Homo sapiens: one gene and its partners. The protein of the gene in region 1 interacts with the protein of each later gene in a biochemical or structural test. Each region holds a gene or a part of one and is shown in the gene's direction. Other genes may lie near its edges. The genes, in order: LPL, LRP2 and SORT1.

Region 1 (3,653 bases):
TAACTAAAAATAACATTCATCTAGTCCACATTTCTTTTCCTACATAATTTAAGTGGCTTTGTTATTGACTGAAGAGGACAATCGCTACAATTTTTATAGAGATGAGACTACTACTAACAGAATTCACACAGATGTTTAACAAAATATAGCCATTTACTATGTTAACATAGTAAATTCAATATTTTGTGATAAAATCTCAAATTCCTAAACATAAATCCTTTAATATTTTAATAGGTGTAAGTAGGAAAAAGGAATCTTTTTCTTTTTTGAGATGGAGGCTCACTCTATTGCCCAGGCTGGAGTGCAGTGGCGCGATCTCGGCTCACTGCAACCTCCGCCACCTGGGCATAAGAGATTCTCCTGCCTCAGCCTCCCGAGTAGCTGGGACTACAGGCGCCCACCACCACACCCGGCCAATTTTTATATTTTCAGCACAGGCAGGGTTTCACCCTGTTGGCCAGGCTGGTCTCGAACTCCTGACCTCAAGTGATCTACCCACCTTGGCCTCCCAAAGTGTTGGGATGACAGGCGAGAGCCACTGCATCTGGCCCAGAAAAAGGAATCTTTAGAGGCCCTTTGGTTATATACAGAACTTGGATTTTAAAATTTTTCAAAAAATCTGAGCTTAATAAACGCATTTATACAACAGAAATAAATTGAGTATCTCAGTCATCTCAATCTTATCCCTGAGAGAATTTTATACTTTGGGAAGTTGTGGGAAAAAAATGGTTCTTTTTCATACTAAGATGACATGACCAACCCAATATCAACAGACGGTGCCACTTCCTATCATTGGTCCTACTGCCTCACTAAGCCCACCTGTATCTTTCACATCATGTGTCCTGACATTTTGAGTGCTTGAGCACAGAGACTGCTGTCTGGCTGTGGGACTGAGTTGGGTCTGTGCAAGAACTAAGCCAGCCACACTGATCTTGATTATCTCAGTGAACTCACTGGCAGGGTCAGGTGGCCCACCTGGTATAGGCAGCAGGGAGGGCTTCAGTTCAGCTGCGTGTCTGAAAACCAAAGATTTAAAACATAGTAATTATTGAACCTCAGAAGAAAAACTCAGATTGAAAGAACTTAGAATAAGACCCTTTTTGAGTTGAGAAAGGTGAGTACTTAGATTTTTCATTTGCTTTGTTTGGGATTACTTACATCAGTATTTTATGTTGATCAGAAAGAAAGGATTCAATTAGCTATTGTTCGGTTAATAAAAATGTCAGCCACTGTAGGAGTAAGTTGGATGTCCAGCCTTTTTAGATTGCTTAACTTGGAAACACTGGGCTGGGAGCGGTGGCTCATGCCTGTGATCCCAGCACTCTGGGAGGCCAAGGCAGGCAGATCACTGGAGGTCAGGAGTTTGAGACCAACCTGGCCAACATGGGGAAACCCAATCTCTACTAAAAAAATACAAAAAAATTAGCCAGGTGTGGTGGTATGTGCTTGTAGTCCCAGCTACTCAGGAGGCTGAGGCAGGAGAATCGCTTGAACCAAGGAGGCGGAGGTTGCACTGAGCTGAGATCATGCCACTGCACTCCAGCCTGGGCGAGACAGTAAGACTCTGCCAAAAGAAAGGAAAGAAAGGAGGGAAAGAAAGGAAGGAATGAAAGGAAGGAAGGGAAGGAGGAAGGGAAGGAGGGAGGGAGGAAGGAAGGAAGGAATGAAGGAAGGAAGGAAGGAATGAAGGAAGGAAGGAAGGGAGGGAGGAAGAAAGGAAGGAAGAACAAAGAAAAGAGAAACACTGGTAGTACAGAAAAACTTCTGATAGAGGCCTAGAGTAAACCCGATTTTCTTGCCTTATCTGAAATAAGCTGCCTGGGGACTCACAGGCACAGACGAAGGGAAATGAGGAGGCTCTCCAGCTGTGTCATGAGACACCCAAAGGAATGCTTAGCATGTAGCATGCATGTGATACATCCCAGCAGGTTGCTTAGACACAGCTATCTTGGAGCTTTGCCACTTGCTTGGATGTCACTGGCTTTAAGTACAGGGTTCCCATTGTGAAGTAGGGGATCCTGGCTGAAACAGGGAGACATTAACATTACATTCTGAAGAAATGACATCAACCTCTCCTGATCTTGAAAGCCAACTACAAAGGGTGCCCAACACCCCAACCTTGAAGGGAGGCGAAGGTGAGTGGGACTGGACCAATTCAACAGGGTTCTGCTCCTAGCCAGGTGCTCCTGCTAGTTTCCTCAAAGACCCACTTTGCATTCAGACCAATCTTTCCTTTTAATAGTATAAATGATCAAAATTTTATTGAATGTCTAAAATATACTTTTTAAATGGGAAGCATGGTGAACCCCAATCTGCCGTTCCTCAACTCAACTCAATGCCTTCCTGGCTTACTTAGATCTGCCTTGGAAGGGACAGACCTGTCTCTGAACACTGTTCTGTTATTTGATTTTTCTATCTGTGCCAATGGGTTTCCAATCAAGTTTGTTTTTTCCATTTCATGCAGGTGTATTGGGCTGATGTATCTATGACAAGTGGTAGGTGGGTATTTTAAGAAAGCTTGTGTCATCATCTTCAGGTAACAGGAATGTATGAGAGTTGGGTGCCAAAACTTGTGGCCGCCCTGTACAAGAGAGAACCAGACTCCAATGTCATTGTGGTGGACTGGCTGTCACGGGCTCAGGAGCATTACCCAGTGTCCGCGGGCTACACCAAACTGGTGGGACAGGATGTGGCCCGGTTTATCAACTGGATGGAGGTAAGACTGGGAGAAGGAGACTTATGTGTCCAAAACAGTGTTTTTGACTGGAGCCAGAAAACCGGCTGTTCTTTCTTCCTTTTCTCTTAGATTTAAATATTTTCTGGGGGCATTCAAATCTTCAGAATCAGCGTGGATATTATTTTATATCCAAAAGCAACATTTTGATAAGAATAGACTATAAGGCCAATAAATAGTCCTGCCCTGCTCTATCGTTTGATATTTTCACAGTGAATAGATCTGCTGAGACCAATAACTAAGTGGGCCCAACAGAAAAAAGCTTGTGATTTTCGGACAGAGGAAAGATGGCATGTTCAGCCAGACCCTTCCCTACCAGTTGGCTGGCCTGTGGACATCTTATCCTCACCTTGACATACCAATCTCTTTCATGAAAATATTAATAGTACTTATTCTTTAGTGTGAAATAGGATGAACGTTTTTGTTGAGCATTGGGAGAGTGATGGAATTGAGCTAGGAAGATGTTGGAAGGGAAGGTGCATAGGATAGAAGGGAACTGAGGTCTGGAGTTCTGACTTAGCTGCAAGAGACCCACTTTTTCACACGATCCCTTGAGAAGTACCTCTGAAAAGTATCTTGGGGTTGGAAAGAAGCTGATACTCTGACCAAGGCAAATTATTTTAACCAGGTAATTGGAAGTAAAAAATAAGCTGTGTTTATTAGACTGATCATAAAAGACAAAAGTTCTTTTCTTGTCTTTTTTGCTGACCAGGCAAATGAACATGGGCAAACGGGATCACCTCCCTGGGGCTCAGGCTTCTCACCTGTTAAATGAGGGGCTGGACCATGTACCTCTGGTCCCTTCCACTGAATGTTTCCTGAGTCTGTCATTGCTTGGCTAACCTTCAATGATAAAGTGATACAGATATTTAGAGTAAGGAATAATGGGAAAATATATACCCATATACTATACATTCAA
Region 2 (3,653 bases), on another chromosome or scaffold:
TTAGCCAGGAATGGTGGTGTGCCCTTGTGGTCCCAGCTACTTGGGAGGCTGAGGTGAGATGATCGCTTGAGCCCAGGAGGTCGAGGCTACAGTGAGCTGTGATCATGCCACTGCACTCCAGCCTCAGCGACAGAGTGAGACCCTGTCTCAAAGAAAATAAATACATAGTTGAAAAGATACAGATAATTAGGTTGATCCATTTGAGATTGATTTTTTTTCCTATGCAGAAATAGTCAAATATTGGCAATTTCATTTGGTTCAACCTAATATAAAATGGAGGCTCAAACTATGTCAGGCCAATCTTGTCTTTTTTCCGTCTCCTGGCTCTGAGATGACTCCATTCTTAAACATGTTCTCCTTTGATGTAAAGCGGCTGTCAGTGGCTCTGGAGCCACCTCCTATCAGATCACATCCACTGGGAAAGAAAAAGAGTTTTTATCTTAGCTATTCCCAGCAAAAGTTTCAGTTGCATCTCAGGGTCTCTACTTAGGTCATAAACTCATTGGAGAACCAACCACTGAATCCCGGGTCATGATGTGTTCCCATGGCTTAGGCTTGGGCTGTATACTCAGTCTTTGAGATCATGTATGAAGGGGTGGAGTCCAGAGAGAAATGGGGGTAATTATTGGGAGAATGGTGAACAGAGGCTGGGATGCAAAAATAACAGGTGTTCAGTATACCTTATCAGATAAAATTGACTGACGATGTTATTTTCATTTTGTATGTGAAGACACACTTGAAAAAGCTACAGAAATTTCTCAAGAGCTGGCAGCCCTGGGGTAACTTACAGAATTGAAAGGAATAAAGTATTGGAAACATTAAGAAAAAAGACATGGTGATCTGTGCCCATGTGACCATGTTGCAACTTTAAGTTTAGAAGGAGAACAGGAGAAAGAAGGACTTTTAGAAGGTTTATTTGGATCCTAAAGTTTTCTTATTTGGAGCAGAGCTTTGTGATAGACAGGAAAGTTCTGGAAAATGAGCTGAGCGATCAGACTACAGGATCCCTTAAGTCTGGTGCAGTATTTCATTTTTCTGTGAATCTTAGGCTCCTACTCCTTTTCCAATTTACTTCACTCCAATGTTTATGTTCCTAAGAGTTTGTCTGTTTTCCAAGCACTAGTCCTTTGCTATAAGGATGGGGTAGAGAGAAAGAAGCTTAAAGAGTTTGCAGACAGGTTAAGATGCTTCTGTGGAGACAGAACACATCTTGGTGCACATCTGAGTGTCCTTAGCACTTCATCTATGGACTTCTTTCATAAATGGTAGAACACGTATCCATCACACCTTATTGGATTAATTCAGAAATGCCAGATATATGTACTCTTTGCTGATGGTTACTTTGTTGGTCTCTAATTTAAGTCTTATCTCTAATCACATTAGCTGAGAAAATGGAGACATTATCATTCTAAAAATAAGATGGTTAACTTTTATATTAGGACACTTCTGATTTAGGATAGCACTGAAATTCAGTGCAAAGAAATGTAAGTCTTTCCTAGATAATGACAGATTAGACAATTTGAAGTTTCACTTTTGGTCATTAGCCCTCAGGTCATGCCTGACCTCAAGGTTACTGGAAACAGTGAGAAATGAATGAAAGGAGGAAATGTAATTACCATTCTGTGCATTGAATAGTTGAGCCACTGTTACCATGGATACAATGGCGCATTTATTGTCCAGATCTTGAGATCCAAGTTTGTAAGCAATATCCAAGGTCTCCTTTAAATTTATGTACTATCAGCGAATAACACATGAAGATTCCTGGTAACTTTGAAAATAAGTCTTTCCTCACTGATCTACTGATTCACATTAAGTAAGAGCATGTGTACTTTTGAAGGTGTTGAGGAAACCTGAAAAAGACGAAAAGGAAAGTAGCTACACTTCTGTTATGCTGGACATTCTTGGATTCCTCTATAAAAATATTCTGTCTTATACTGTCAGTGATTTGCTTGTCACTTTGGGCCCAGTTCTTTGGTTTTTATGTCATTAACAAGGAGAAAATTTCCTGAGTAAAGGTTGAAAAAATCAAAATCGTTTATTTTTATTTTTTGAGACAAGGTCTTACTTTATCACCCAGGCCAGAGAGGGTCTCACTTTATCACTCAGGCTGGAGTGCATGGCTCCCTGCAGCCTCAACTTCCCAGGCTGAAGAGATCCTCTCCGCTTAACCCCACAAGAAGCTGGGACTACAGACACATACCAGCACTCACAGTTAATTTTTATATTTTTTGTAGAGATGAGGTTTCTCCATGTTGTTCAGGCTGGCCTCAAACCCCTGAGCTCAAGTGATCCTCCCGCCTCAGCTTCCCAAAGTGCTGGGATTATAGGCGCTAGCCACCATGCCCGGCTGAAATCATTTATTTTGTCAGGAAATTCTTAAAGTTGAATTTAAGAATGAAAGTATTTTATCAGAAATATGGCAATCCTACCCACATTTTAATCTCACTAGAAGGGGGGTGATACATGCTAGCATGTACTTCCACACTGGTTTAATTTTGATGTGGGGAAGGGTGTGGAGAATACTTTTTGTTGCAAGAAACAGAAAACCCAACTCAAAATGGCCTACACAATAAAGGGTATTTCTTGGCTTATGTGAGTAAAAAATACTGAGGCAGAGTGGGGTTCAGGCGAGGTGCAGTCAGGGCTCCAGTTCTCTTTCTTTGTGTTTTCCTTGACCCTACTCCCCCCTAAGTTTCACCTTTGTGTGCGGTCTGGCTTCCCATATGATTCTGATATGGCTGCCAGGGCAAATGGGGCTACGTGTTTCCTTGATCCTATCCAGGGGGAATCCAACTTTGAGAAGGTTTTAGTTATGTTCTCAAAAGTATTATTTCATCACAATAACTTACAGATTGTTAGAATTTCTAAGGACCCTAGACAAAGTCAGCTAGCTCCCCAAACTTGACATATCATCAAAATCACCTGAGGAACTTAAAAAAGTATAGAGATTCTTAAATCAAAACTCACCCTTACTAAAGCAGGGGTATGAAAATCTGTGTTTTTTAAAAATTTTATTTTATTTTACTTTCAGTTCTGGGATACATATGCAGAATGTGCAGGTTTGTTACATAGGTATACATGTGCCATGGTGGTTTGCTGTACCTATCAACCTTTCATCTAGGTTTTAAGGCTCACATGCATTAGGTATTTGTCCTAATGCTCTCCCTTCCCTTGGCCCCCACCCCCTGACAGGCCCCGGTGTGTGATGTTCCCCTCTCTGTGTGTGATGTTCCCCCCCCTGTGACCATGTGTTCTCATTGTTCATCTCCCACTTATGAGTGAGAACATGCGGTGTTTGGTTTTCTGTTCCTATGTTAGTTTGCTGAGAATGATGGCTTCCAGCGTCATTCATGTCCCTGCAAATGACATGAACTCATTCCTTTTTATGGCTGCATATTATTCCATGGTGCATATGTGCCACAACCAACCCAAATGCCCATCAGTGATAGACTAGATAAAGAAAATGTGGAAAATCTGTATTTTTAAAAGTTTCAAGGTGATTCTGAGGGCTGGACCAATTTTTGGGAACGTGTGATCTAGGTACCCTCTCATTTTTCAGTTTTGTAAACAGACTTAGAGGTGAACTGACTTACCACTGCAAATTTCTTCAGTGGCAGTTAAATATACTCTGTTAAATCTCTTTCTTTTGGATG
Region 3 (3,653 bases), on another chromosome or scaffold:
GCTGACTCTTGCAGTGATTTTGGCTACTACCGTCCAGAAAATGACTCCAAGTGTGTGGAACAGCCAGAACTGAAGGGCCACGACCTGGAGTTTTGTCTGTACGGAAGAGAAGAACACCTAACAACAAATGGGTGAGGTGGCCTTTTCTCCCTTGTCACGATGGATGAGGTGTTCTTGTTCAGAGTGAAAGCTGCTTCTCTCCACACTGAGATCCAAGCCCTACTTTAGAGCACTATTTTTGGCGGGGTTGGGGAGGGGCAGGATATGAAGGCCTCCTTCAAGGGTCAACTACAGGAGGTGAGCCATGAGTGCTTGGTGTCAGAGGACTCAACCCCACCAACACCACGAGGCAGAGCAGGAGAACAAGCTCGGCCAGATCCTGCACCCCTGCCTCCCGCCCAACCACCCCCAGGAAGGGAGGAGAGGCGAGGGACCCACAGGCAGAATGACAGAAGCGTCCCATCCGCCATGAACGTCCATCGCTCGTCTGGCACAGTTTAGGCACAGCCAGGGAGAGCTCTGTCTGATAGGACTTTCTTTGGTGATGGAAGTGTTCTGTAATTTGCTGTGCCCAATATGATAGTCACTAGCCACACATAGCTGTGGACACTAGTGTAACCGAGGAACTGAAATTTTCGTTTTAATCAATTTTAAGTAGCCACCATATTGGACAGTGCTGCTCTAGACGGGCCTCATTACCTCGCTCCCCTGATAACTTCCCCTCTCCCATTTTGTACCACTTGTTAATGAGCTTTTTTGGGGTCAGATTTCTTTGGCACAGTCTCTTAGGTAGAAAGAACAGGCATGTTTCTGACAGCAGGGGACAGAGATGCTTAGTTTGCTTAAGGCCTGAAACTACACAAAATATCCCCCAAAACATCCCTGTGGACATTCCCCCCAGGCCTGAAACATGACGTAAGGATGGGAAGCTTTTCGGCAGCTTTTCAAATCTTGTTTCCAAGAAATAGGCAGGTACCCAGGAATACATCCTTATCTTCTGTTACCAAATCTTCTTTGCCTGGTAGGTACCGGAAAATTCCAGGGGACAAATGCCAGGGTGGGGTAAATCCAGTTCGAGAAGTAAAAGACTTGAAAAAGAAATGCACAAGCAACTTTTTGAGTCCGGAAAAACAGGTATGTTAAAATAGGTCTAGTTTTCAGGTACAAATGGGATTTTGTGTTCTGCTAAGAAAAATCAAAGTTAAAGCATCAAGAGTTTTGTTACTGATAAAAAGTGGTCAAACTACTTCTCTCAGGCTTCCCTTATACAGGAAGCTGTTAGCATGAAGGATGGGTCATGTAACCCAGTGATAAGCTCACCCTACTGAAAGCTCTTTTCTTATTGAGGGTTGGGGGATGATATTCTGTAAAGTTGTAAAATTCTTAAAATCATACAGTTGTGGAAATTTCTGAGGCTGAGAGTCATTTAGGAAAACAAAAAGGTTGTCTGTGGGCTGGGTACAGTGGCTCACACCTGTAATCCCAGCACTTTGGAAGTCCAAGGCAGGCAGATCACTGAGGTCAGGAGTTCAAGACCAGGCTGTCCAACATGGTGAAACCCTGTCTCTGCTAAAAATACAAAAATTAAAATTACAAAAATTAGCTGGGTGTGGTGGTTTACGCCTGTAGTCCCAGTTACTCGGGAGGCTGAGGTAGGAGAATCATGTGAACCTGGGAGGTGGAGGTTGCAGTGAGCCGAGATCGTGCTGCTACACTCCAACCTGGGCAACAGAGCAAGACTCCGTACCAAAAAAAAAAGGTTGTCTGTGAAGGGCCATGACCTGGAATTGTGCATGTGTGGAAGAGAAGAGCACTGGGCAATAGGTAGGGTGGATCTCTGACCAAGTCATGTTAAGTATGTTCAAAGTGAAAAATTGAGCTATGGTAATGGGCTGGTTTTGATTTAAATGAAGCAAGTTACCTGTCGGGCATGGTGGCTTACTCCTGTATAGTCCCAGCACTTTGGGAGGCTGAGGTGGGGAGATCAGTTGAGGCTATGAATTGGAGAGCAGCCTGGGCAACATGGAGAAACTCCATCTTTACAAAAAAAATACAAAAATTAGCCGGATGTGGTGGTGTGTGCCTGTAGTCCCAGCTACTCAGGAGGCTGAAGGGAGAGAATCACCTGAGCCTGGGAGGTCAAGGCTGCAGTGAGCCATGATCATATCACTGCACTCCAGCCTGGGTGACAGAGTGAGATCCTGTCTCAATTTAAAAAAAAAAAAAAAAAAAAAAGGTTATGAGGCTGCATCCAAATCTGTAGCACTGAACTACCTGTGGAACTGGAGATGTGTAAAGAGGAAACCTCTTGATAATGAAACACTAGACCAGCAGCATGACTTCAGATGCTCAACAGCAGGCCCGTTTCCCAATTCGTAATAGGAGAGGTCAAGCTGGATCACCTGCAGTCCCTCCTCTCTGCTGTTCTAAGGGATGAGGGACTGACAAGGGGTGGGATTAAGGAGATGATGGGAGAGGAGTGTGTGAGTGTGTGTATTGGTAAGGGGGCGAGTTCCTCCTTCTGTGCACCCTTGTCCTGGGCTCCTGGTGACTCTCCTCAGAGTGTTCGTGTGTGTGATTGCACAGGACTCCCACCCACAGGGACACAGCTTGTCCTAGAATCCAGCTCTGCCTCCTCTGGGATACATTGAAAACACACACTCCCTATTTCCCACCCAGAAGCAGGTAGGTCACATGCAAACAGTGATATGATAAGGCTTATTTATAATAATATATAAAAAATTAAGTAAACAAATAAATCTTGGTGTCATATAATGGCCTGCCTGGTTCTTCTGACACAGCTTCTTCCCAGATAATGGCCCTGTTCTAGAGTCATTCAGCCTACTGTTACAGTAGTCTCCCTTTCCTACTCCACCCTTAAGCCCCAAGACTTGTGAACAGTGGTAGTGTGAAGCAATCATACTTGATCTAGGCAGTTGCCCAGGCTTCCAGTGTAACTTTGACATTTAAACCACAGAATTTGAAGGTTCAAGGCAGTTGGAGCTAAGATGACTCTCTGCCAGCTATAATATTCTCCTGGTAACACTGAGATGGTTCATCTTGGGGGGTTGGAAAAGAGCCATCATTAAGCGCATCAGGACTGCAGATCATTCACAAAGAGATGAGGGGAATGAGTGGCTGCCTTGACCTCAGTCCTAGGATATGCATGCCTAAAACTTTTGTGTTTGTGTTTTAATTTCTCAAGAATTCCAAGTCAAATTCTGTTCCAATTATCCTGGCCATCGTGGGATTGATGCTGGTCACAGTCGTAGCAGGAGTGCTCATTGTGAAGAAATATGTCTGTGGGGGAAGGTAAGGAACACAGAAGTCAATCCAAGGTACTGAGTTCAAGCCAGAAGGCTGATCTAGGGCATATGGCTGAGTCTACTCTTGGCAAAAACTAGGTACTTGCAGTACTGTTCCTGAAAAATCAGGCCCAAATCTTCTCATGTCGTACATTTTTCATATGTCAACCATGGACTGTGCTTTCTGTGTCTGTGATGCGTTCCTGAGTGTATAAAACTGAGAAAGTCCACAGTCCTGTAAGAAGTGCACCCCTGCTGTGTACCACCGAGTGTTAAGGAGGTTTCTGTTCACAGGTTCCTGGTGCATCGATACTCTGTGCTGCAGCAGCATGCAGAGGCCAATGGTGT

The links.
Region 2: the proteins of LPL (region 1) and LRP2 form a complex in vitro, tested with the Homo sapiens proteins (one study listed by BioGRID).
Region 3: the proteins of LPL (region 1) and SORT1 interact in a biophysical measurement, tested with the Homo sapiens proteins (one study listed by IntAct).

The regions. Positions count from the first base shown.
Region 1 is NC_000008.11:19,949,233-19,952,885, forward strand, and holds part of LPL (lipoprotein lipase precursor), read left to right. Parts: intron 1-2,536; coding exon 2,537-2,716; intron 2,717-3,653. UniProt on the Homo sapiens protein: Key enzyme in triglyceride metabolism.
Region 2 is NC_000002.12:169,352,405-169,356,057, reverse strand, and holds part of LRP2 (low-density lipoprotein receptor-related protein 2 precursor), read left to right. Parts: intron 1-3,653. UniProt on the Homo sapiens protein: Multiligand endocytic receptor. Acts together with CUBN to mediate endocytosis of high-density lipoproteins. Mediates receptor-mediated uptake of polybasic drugs such as aprotinin, aminoglycosides and polymyxin B.
Region 3 is NC_000001.11:109,314,331-109,317,983, reverse strand, and holds part of SORT1 (sortilin isoform 1 preproprotein), read left to right. Parts: intron 1-14; coding exon 15-131; intron 132-1,025; coding exon 1,026-1,134; intron 1,135-3,205; coding exon 3,206-3,312; intron 3,313-3,599; coding exon 3,600-3,653.